Homo sapiens: one gene and its partners. The protein of the gene in region 3 purifies or fractionates together with the protein of the main gene of each other region. This does not show direct contact. Each region holds a gene or a part of one and is shown on either strand. Other genes may lie near its edges. The genes, in order: MARK3, POC5 and CERT1.

Region 1 (3,660 bases), on a different chromosome or scaffold from region 3:
GAGCTGGAATTCCAAATAATGTGTCCCAGTGAGACTCCTGGGGGTAGTTTTGTCCGGTAACTGTGTGTGTTAGATGAAACTGCAGACTTCCAGCCACTCTATCTTACCATGTCTGTTAACAGTTAATTTGCTCTGATGAATTTGCCCATCTTGGAGAAGGGGGCTCTGCTGACTGTTTTTTATCTTGGAGTAAATGTCCTTTGATTAGGAAGGTTCTAGACTATATTGTTAAAACAACATTGGAAGGCTGGGCATGGTGGCTCATGCCTGTAATCCCAACACTTTGGGAGGCCAAGGCAGGCGTATCGTTTGAGCCCAGGAGTTCAAGACCAGCCTGGGCAACATGACAAAACTCTCTCTACTAAAAATACAAAATTAGCCAGGCATGGTGGAGTGCGCCTGTATTCCCAGCCACTTAGGAGGCTGAGGTGGGAGAACCACCTGAGCCCAGGAAGTTGAGGCTGCATTGAGCCATGATCGTACCACTGCACTGCAGCTAGGTGACAGCAAAACCCTGTCTCAAAAAAACACCAAACAACATAGGATACTGTTATATAACAGCTAGTTCCTATACCTGTAATCTTATTAATTCATTTAAAATACATCAGTGCGGGCCGGGTGTGGTGGCTCACACTTATAATCCCAACACTTTGGAAGGCCAAGGCGGGAGGATCACTTGAAGCCACAAATTTAAGACCAGCCTGGATAATATAGCGAGACCCTGTCTCTACAAAAAAAATAAATAAAGAAAAAATAAAATATGTCAGTGTGTTTTGGGAACAGGTTGAGAGCATAGCATGCTCATATTATATATTCATTTTACCACTTAGATTTGAATTGAGGCATCTCTTAGAATAGGTTTTATTTTGTGCATACCCTCAGAGGACATTGTCCCTCTCATAGAAACAGATATTCAAACATGTAATCTGCTATTTTATTTTAAGGTAATAGATTTTTATGATTACTGTTTGGAAAAAAAAAAAAGCAACTATAGGTTAGCAGTTGCTCCAGAATCTCCAAAACAAGCTTAGGAGATTTTTATTCTTTACCAGAAATGAGATGGCTTGGGAGGAAGGTGTGTGCATTACACACAGGTTGCTCTGTGGTCACTGCTCCTTCATACTGTGTTTCTGCCTCTGCCTGAACCCAAACCCCTCCCAGCCTGACAGAAATGTTCGCTTACGCAGCTAGCCCTGCCTCAGTTTGTACATCTACCTGTCGGCTGAGACATCAGAAGTCGATGTCCATGTCAGCCTCTGGGCACCCCAAGATGATGTTACCTCCAATAGACAGTGAAGGAGATAACTTCAAGGCTATGTAAGAAAAATGCACATTCTTTGTGAAACTAATGTGTACCCACTGCTTCTTAATTTTGTGCTGTGGATTTTATAGTCTGAGATTTTGTTACAGTTGTCCACAAGGCGTCCTTCCTCCATGTGATTTTAGTTAAGCACATCTTTTGTCATGATGTCCTCGGTTGTGTATTGTGTGTCTTCGTGCCTTCGCGTACTACAAAATGTATAAGAAGTTCCTGCTCCTCCCAAGTTGCTTTCAGCATGTGGAATTTTATACATATATCATTTGTTTACTTCCAAAACTTTTTAGTTGCCTGTTCTTCAGTTACGCCAGCATATCCTTTATTTCTTTCGTATTGGCACAGTTCTCTATGTAAGCAATTTGAGAGGGAAGCAAAGGGGAAAAGTTTGAGTTAGCTGTTCTCTGTCCTAGAATTTCCCTGCATTAATCTTGTCCTTGAAAATATATATAATACTGGTCCCTTAAACTCCATGAGGCTTTGTCTCATTATGTATTGTTCTTTTGGTACCCTTTCCCACTTAACTTACCTTTTGCTCCTAAGTCCTATAAAATACCCCTTGGATCTGGATTTTTTATACCCGATTTTCTCCACTGTGTATAAAAGGTATATTGTGACTGTAAATTTTTGTATATCATGTTCTGAGAGCTTCTTACTTTCTGATCTCATAGCACTATTCCTGATCAGAGAACTCCAGTTGCTTCAACACACAGTATCAGTAGTGCAGCCACCCCAGATCGAATCCGCTTCCCAAGAGGCACTGCCAGTCGTAGCACTTTCCACGGCCAGCCCCGGGAACGGCGAACCGCAACATATAATGGCCCTCCTGCCTCTCCCAGCCTGTCCCATGAAGCCACACCATTGTCCCAGACTCGAAGCCGAGGCTCCACTAATCTCTTTAGTAAATTAACTTCAAAACTCACAAGGAGGTAAGTGCTAGGTGCTGGTTGTTTTGGAGTGAACACATAGAGCAAAAGGAAAGATGTCTTTTTTGTTGTGTGAAGCCACTGCTACCTGGATGCTTTTCAGTCTGCCTTCAGCTCATGGTTTTCTGGTTTTATATATATCTAACTTTATACTTTAAAACCTTTAAAGTAGAAATTGTAGAGCTCAGAGTCTTCATAACACTAAAAGTTAACTAGCATTTAGGAGGTTTTTGTTACTGTTCTTTAATTATTGTTCCTTTTGCTCACGTATCTGTCTGCATGGCATGTTCGTTGTTGTTGAGCAGGCAGACCTCGAGTTCTGGTGTGGGGTGGGGGGCTGGCACTCTGTAACAATCAGCAGGAAAGACCATGCATGTCTTTCATAATCATCTCCAGCCCCAGAGGAAAGAGACAGCTTCTCTTTTCTCACTTTATTGTTGTTAAGGAGCAGTAAATTTCTTAAGAGTCCAAATCTTGAAAGTTTCTCTCTCAGTCTTAGTAATTTATATTGAGAGCAAGGTAATGTCCTTAAATGGTATAGTTTTGGAGATAAAATCTCTGGTTTATTATCAAAAAATAATGTTACTATTATTAAGTTATTTTTATTAAATGCTGCATGATTCTTGGCTGATGGTCCTGGAAATTTTTTAAAATGTTCCATGTGTCTAGTAGGCTAGCATCTGGGGCCTCAGTAAACTCTCAAGGGTCCTTTGAGATTAACTTCATTTCCGTAACCTTGTTACCTGTTACAAAAGCCCAGAAATACTGGCTGCTTCAAGAGGAAAAAGAAAGGATACCACTTTGAACCGTAAACAATAGTGAAAGGCACCTTTCCGAGAAGGAGCCCAGGAAACCCAAGAGCCCCTGCAGTTTCAGGACATCCTTGGAGAAATGTTTTGAAATTAAGCCTAGCTGTGGATGAGTCTGTCTGTGGTATCTTGCAGGTTTGCCTAGGACGGACCCTCTTATTTGTCATCTGTAGCTTACAGGACAGCAGTAGGAGTCTTTCCCGAGTCTGAAATGATCAGTACCCTCCTCTGTTTTTCTGCATTCCCTATGGCCTATAGCCTATTACTTCATTTCACTCCATCTCCATTATTTAAACTAAGCTAAATGTAATCTTGTATTCGATCATCTGAAACTTCGGTGAGTCACATTAAAGTCTGATCTACTTATTATTAGGACATGGAATAGATTAGGGAGTATTCCTTTTTTTTTTTTTTTTAATTTTTTTTTTTTTTTTGAGACGGAGTCTCACTGTCGCCAAGGCTGGAGTGCAGTGGTGCAATCTTGGCTAACTTCAACCTCCGCCTAGATTAGGGAGGATCTCTGACATCCATTAGCATTAACTAGAAGTCAGACGCATCAGAAGGTTTCTATTTACCCTCTTACTCACTTCTTAGCCCCTTTATTAAGCCA
Region 2 (3,067 bases), 170 kb from region 3:
TTAATCATCTAGTGCCCAGCTAGTACTCGGGAAAAAAGGATTTAAAATCATTCCATATACTTTTTTTTTGCTAATACTTAGAAAGTACACAGGAACGTTGTCCGATGCTGAGAATTTATAGAGGGCATTCTCTTTTAAAATCAGTCCCTGAAATCAGCTGGGGGTGGTGGCGGGTGCCTGTAATCCCAGCTACTCGGGAGGCTGAGGCAGGAGAATTGTTTGAACCCAGGGGGCGGAGATTGCAGTGCGCCAACATTGCGCCATTGCACTCTATCTAGCCTGGGAGACAAGAGAGAAACTCTGTCTCAAAAAAAAAAATAAATAAAAAATAAATAAATAAATAAATAAATAAATCCTTGTTTTTCTTTAGGGATGTTCTTATCACTCTTATTATACTTTTTGAGATAATTGTTGATTCGTACACATTTGTAGGAAATAATTCAGAGATATCTCATGTATCTTTTTCTAGTAACTTTCAGTAAGTTAAATTTGCTTATGGTTTTATAGTTTATAAAATGCCTTAATACATCTCGTTTAATTTTCACATTATCTCATTTAATCTTGAATCCTAACAATAACCCAAGGAGCTAACTATTTTTATTAACCCCATTTTACAGAAGAGAAAGTGGAGGCTCAAATATTTTACTTGATTTGTATATATCACAAAGCCAACAAGTAGCAAAGCTGAAGCACTAACTCGGGTTTTAAAATTTTTGCTTCAAATTCAATGCACCTTCTTTATATCACATGCATTTACTGCAAGTTGAATTTTGTTAAACTAAAAACATGCTGACAATTGTACTGAAAAAAGGGGAAGACTTTTTTTAAAAAAGGACCAAAAATTAAAAACTATAAATGTAGGGGAGTTTTCTTGTAATCAAATATCTGCTACATGAGCAGCTAGTGAGTGAACAATTTTTGTCTCTTTTTAAACTGATAATAAAGCATTTACATATTTTACTCTTTTGACCACAAACACACTGGATTACTTTTAGTATTTTATAATTTTTACAGTTTGGAAGAAACGATGTTTCTGAAATTAATTTCCCAACAGCAGAAACGTAGATTTATAGCAGGTTTGAGAAAAACAAGTATATATATTAAAAAAAAAAAAAAAACTGTAACAGGAAAAGGCAGAACAAGTACCAGTCATCATAAATTTTTATCTTCTCAACATGTTATGTAAGTGTTTACTAGTCTATGAACTCTCAGGAAAAAGACTTTTTGACAAAAGGTCATCAAATGTGGACTCACCACTGTGACTGGATGATGTTTTTCCACAACAACTGAGCTCATGGGAGGAGAAACTCCCATTATAGCTAAACTGCTGCTAATTCTATTTTTTGAAGCAAAATCACATCTTCCTGTGATCCGGGCTGTAATAGTTCTTCCTGCTTTCTGTTGTGCAGAGGTTACAACTCTTGGCACATACTAAGAAGAAAAAAAAATAAAAGAAGTAACAAGGTGGCAGAAAATCCACAGCAAAATCTATTGATTCCATAAATTATGAAGAATACACAGGCACTTAAAATAACTGTATGTTCAACCAACTTTAACATGGAAAAAACAAAATCACAAGACGAAAAGCAAAACAAAACTGAACACCCCAAAATATCCCTTTAACCTGAGTATGCCAACGATTTTATAAGATTTTAGAAACTTAAAAAACCAACTTTTTTTTTTTAAATGATAGATTTATAGAAAGACACAGAGATCATATTGAAAAGTACTGTGTGCTCTTCACCCAGTTTCCTGCCATGGTTACATCTGACATAATTAGAATATAACAAAGTCAAAACCAGGAAGCTCACCATGAGATAATGCCTGTGTATAGATCTCTGTCATTTTATCACCTAAGTTCCTGTTAACTATCACTCAATCAAGATACAGAATACTCATCACCACGAAGATCTCCCTCGTGCCACCCTTGACAGTCATATCCATCTCTCTGTTCCTTCCCCAACCATCCTTAACCTCTGGAAACCATTAATCTGTTTTATGGACTCTTTGATCCTTAAGCATAATTAATATTATCATTACACATATGCTTCTGTGTTCTGCCTTTTTTCCTTCTCATTTTATTAATATACTTTTTTTTACGAGGTAATACAGAGACCTGCTATAGTTCTTAATGAGATGGTTTTTATACCAACATACTACTTTGTCTTTCTTTTTCTATTACATTTAGCACATTTTGCAAAAGAAAAATCCTCTTTTGAGAGTTACTTCTGTATAATAAAAATATATTGCAAACAATGGAACGATCATATCAAAAAGTATTATCAGCTTTTATAGCTTTTGCTGCTTATCGCTGGATAATACTCCAGAAAAATATTTACAGCAGGAATAACACGTAAGTGGACTATTTTTCCACTGTCAATCAATTACACAGCCGCCTGTTTAAGTCTGAGGTGAAATCTACTATTCAAGTTGTGGTTCTTTATTAATGTTTCATATTTGTATTCCATTTTGTCAACTATTCATCTTATTTGCTAAGAATTGAAAGGATATTAATATTTAAATTTAATAGTTCCTGACGAGTACTAAACTCATTTAATAATTATAGATACTTATCTCAGAGTGTAAACGATTTCCCCATTTCATGTATTTGTCTTAATTTTCAATGCACATCCATTTTTTTAAGTTGTGGTTAATCCTGTCATTAATTTCCTCTTGCTTCCATGATGAAACCAAAACCAGCTTTGGACAGCTGAGGTAGTTATATTCTTATAACATTTACTTATTTTGGCTTAGCTTATTAAAACATTTGAAATTCCAGTGTGAAGTATTAATCTAAATTCATTTTTTCTCTAAACAGTTTTTCCAAAGGCATTTATTAAGTATCAATCTTTTCCCGATTATTATAGTTCATCTGTGATTCTCCATATAGCTGCATCTAGCTACACACAGTCACAGCTGTATACTGAAATGGGAAGAGAGTGGGCTTCAGGAGAGATGTCTCTGGGAAAATTAAAATGACAGAGTATTGATGTTTTTGGAAGACCCTATGGAAAACAGCATTCAGTGGGGTTTTGTAATCCTTGGAGAGTTTGGAAATAATTCACTA
Region 3 (3,660 bases):
CCAAAAATCTCTACCTGTTTTAACTTTAGTAACTGCAAATAAATTACTTCTATCTTCACCAATGAATCATTAGCAGTTTAAGGAACTGGTTGATGAAATACCCACAATATAATTTTAAACAGAGGATAAGAAGGACAAGCCAAATGCCCAGAAGAGAGTCCAGAAACAACCTTAAATAAATATGGGACCGTAATATATGATGAAAGTGGTGTTTGAAACCACTTGGAAAAAGGTTAGTTATTTAATTAATGCTACCAGGATACATAATTAGTCATGTGGAAAAAAAACTAAAAACATCAATATCACTCCTTAAACTAAAATAACTTCCACAGGAATCAAAATTCAAGTGTAAATTTTAGATGAAAATATATCTACATTCATATAGAGAGATAGTCTTTGAGAGAGAAACACCTATCTAAACAAGTAAATACAGAAGCCGTAATAAAAGATGTCAATAAGAGTATGTAAAAATCTAAGATTTCTCTAGGGCCTAATATAGACTATAAAACAAGCAAAGAAGAAACAGACAAGTGACAATGTGGGGGAAAATATTTGCAACAAATGTGCCAAATGGTTAATTACCATATGAAGAGTTTCTACAAGCCAAAAAGGAAAGAAAAACCAAAAAAAAAGTGCATAAGCAATTGGAAAAGGAAAAAGAAATAAAAATGGGCTATAAATTATTAAGTTACTCAACCTCATGGATAAAAAGTGCAATTTAAAATAATAAGATACCATTTTAATGTAGCAGTTTGACAAATACTTTAACATTTGCCAAACCCAACTTCCTCAATACTTGCGGGTAAGGAGAAACAGAGGCACTCATTCACTACTGGTAGGAGTGAGGAGTGGTACTCTTGAAGGAGTATTTGACAATAACTAAAAACAAATTTTAAAGTACATATTTGTTTCAATAATGATTGTAATAAAAATTAGGCATGATTTAAATGTGCAAAAACAGGGTCCAGGCAAATAAATATAATATATCCACACGATTCAACAGAATATAACAGTTAATGTGTAAGTTGTATTAAAACAAGGTGCAGAACAATAGGCTTAATATGATACCATTTGTGTAAATATTTATGAAAGATATAAACAAATCCTTGTATAGTCCTACATATTTTCTGAAAGGATGACCAGAAATTTAAGTTTGGTTGTCCCTCAAGTGCAAGACTAAAAAGCAGCATGTACTTCTTAAACTTTTTAATGCCACAAATTATATTTTTTATCATGTGCACTTTATTTTAAAAATAGAATATAAAAAGTAAACAGTGTAAATATTCCATAAACATTTGCTTTTAATTGAAACAATTACAACTAACATATTCAGAATATCTACTATGCGGCAAATTTTGTAGCAGGGGCTGGGTCTTCTAAGTATCAAGCTATAATAACTGAAGAATTCAACTGTCTTTCTACAAACACTTATTCTACATACAAATAGCTCTTTTTACACAAAGTAAGGGAATACTATTTTTCCTCTCACCTACTTACTGTCAATCCTTTCACATTAAGGAATAAATTCTCTCAAGACATACTTTCTTCCTTGAAATTATTTCACCCACTTTATTATCACACAGATAAAGAATATTGTTTTTATAAATTAAGAGTGATTTAATCATTAAACTAAGAATGAACTTAAAATGGATTAGGCTCTATCAAGAAATGTGGGTTCAGATGCTAGGTCCACCAACAAATAATATAGTAATGAATGGTTACAGTAAAGTCACATCAACTCTTCAAGCCCAGATTTCTTTGTACGTGAATATTATCAATTTCATAAGAGTGCCATATAAAGAAATTAAACATTTACATTCTTTGTATTCTGACATGAAGTGACAATAGGCATAGCCCATATTTAAGGAAAAAAAATACCAAGAGATGCCTATTAAAATTTAATGAGGAATATTACTATTACATTTATTTATTTAACTAAAGTACATACTCTAATTTGTAAACTCATCCTGAGTTCACTGAATTCAGTTATATTTTTAATTTCCTTTAAATATGTAACATGGAGTCTGTGAACCCAAAGGGCAAGGAAAGTTCAAGTTCAATAATATAAATGCTTGTGTTTTTTCCTATCATCCATTTCATTGTATCTAAGACTACCACACAGATTTTGTTGCCTAATTCATCTTTTTACTTCTACTTTTATCTCTCCTTCAAAGAATTCAAATTGTTTCTTGTTCCTACGCATGTCTTTTACTATGTACCACAATGAAAGTTATGCATGTACATATAGCTATAACAAAAATCAATTACAATAAAGTAACACTGTTTTCTTCCTGAGAAGATGGATATAAATGTTAAAATTTAAATTTTTTGTTTAATTTAAATTAAACATTTAAATTTTTTGTTTAATTTAAATTAAACATTTAAATTAAATGTTTAATTTAAAATTTTCTTTTCTCCAAATAAGCCAGGCAACATTATTATAGTCCATAATTCAAGACAGAATAACTATATTTAAATCCACAGAAACTAGCATGGTACTCTAGGAATACTACTACTTAGAGAATAATAAAGATAAAATTTAATTCCTCCCCATTTTTACATCAATCATTATACTATTTTCAAAGAGTTAAGCATTGCAACTAATAAACATCCAATAATAATACGCAAAAGAAGGGGAGTGGAGGATCAAGGAAAAACACTTCAAGATCGCAAGGTACATTTCAATCCACTATTCTGTCCATTGATATGAATAATGATCTATCTCGGAAGAAAAACACCCAAAATATTAAACTAGATACAATTTCTAAACACATTACAATGTACCACATACCAGTCAAAATAAATACTGAGCCTTTATGTTAAAGCTATTTCCTAAAAATTGTCTCTAAGAATAGAGAGCGTAGTTTCATTATCAACACTTCCAAATATTTCTTCTGTGTTTCTCTAACTTGATATTCAATTCTAAACTTTTGTTTTCAAACTTTGAATATACAAGGGGGGAAATAATGTATAAAAAATAATGTAAAAATACTGTAAGATTTTCCCTAAATGCATAACAAACATACGCTAAGTAAGGATTAGATATTAACGGAAATCTGAAGTATTATATATATATCTTTCACTTTTATAAGCCAAATAAATTCTATCACAAAATGTGACTTCTCTTTGAGTGAGTTAGTAAACTCTGTATTTTTGTTTTAACGTACCCATTTTCAGATTTTAACTACAACAGCTCCCTTAACTGACCTCTATTTAACTGTCTGGCCTTAGCCAACACTTTTTTTTTTTTTTTTTTGGCCCATGGCATGCTGACCATTCTTAACCAGTATGCTATTTTTTGTATTATCAGGTACTTCTGTTCTCACTAGTTGGGTTACATGCTTAACAAGTCAGTTGGTTGTTCCCAAACCTGTTTATGCCAGTTTACTTGTTATAGTTCTTACATATCTTAAACATTATTCATGTCTAATGACTACGAGTGCAAAAAGGAACAGTTGTTTCTATATACTAAGTTAAATGTAAACTAAGTAGGCCAGGCGCGGTGGCTCATGCCTGTAATCCCAGCACTTTGGGAGGCTGAGGTGGGTGGATCACTTGAGGTCAGGAGTTTGAGACCAGCCTGGCCAACACAGTGAAACCCCATTTCTACTAAAAATACAAAAATTAGCCGGGCGTGATGGCACGTGGCTATAGTCCCAG

The links.
Region 1: the proteins of CERT1 (region 3) and MARK3 purify together in Homo sapiens (affinity purification with mass spectrometry; 2 studies listed by BioGRID and IntAct, with this or other methods). This does not show direct contact.
Region 2: the proteins of CERT1 (region 3) and POC5 purify together in Homo sapiens (co-immunoprecipitation; one large-scale study listed by IntAct). This does not show direct contact.

What each region holds. Positions count from the first base shown.
Region 1 is NC_000014.9:103,489,791-103,493,450, forward strand, and holds part of MARK3 (MAP/microtubule affinity-regulating kinase 3), read left to right. Parts: intron 1-1,986; coding exon 1,987-2,244; intron 2,245-3,660. UniProt on the Homo sapiens protein: Serine/threonine-protein kinase. Involved in the specific phosphorylation of microtubule-associated proteins for MAP2 and MAP4. Phosphorylates the microtubule-associated protein MAPT/TAU. Phosphorylates CDC25C on 'Ser-216'.
Region 2 is NC_000005.10:75,676,520-75,679,586, forward strand, and holds part of POC5 (centrosomal protein POC5), read right to left. Parts: intron 1,432-3,067; coding exon 1,255-1,431; intron 1-1,254. UniProt on the Homo sapiens protein: Essential for the assembly of the distal half of centrioles, required for centriole elongation. Acts as a negative regulator of centriole elongation.
Region 3 is NC_000005.10:75,501,514-75,505,173, forward strand, and holds part of CERT1 (ceramide transfer protein), read right to left. Parts: intron 1-3,660. UniProt on the Homo sapiens protein: Shelters ceramides and diacylglycerol lipids inside its START domain and mediates the intracellular trafficking of ceramides and diacylglycerol lipids in a non-vesicular manner.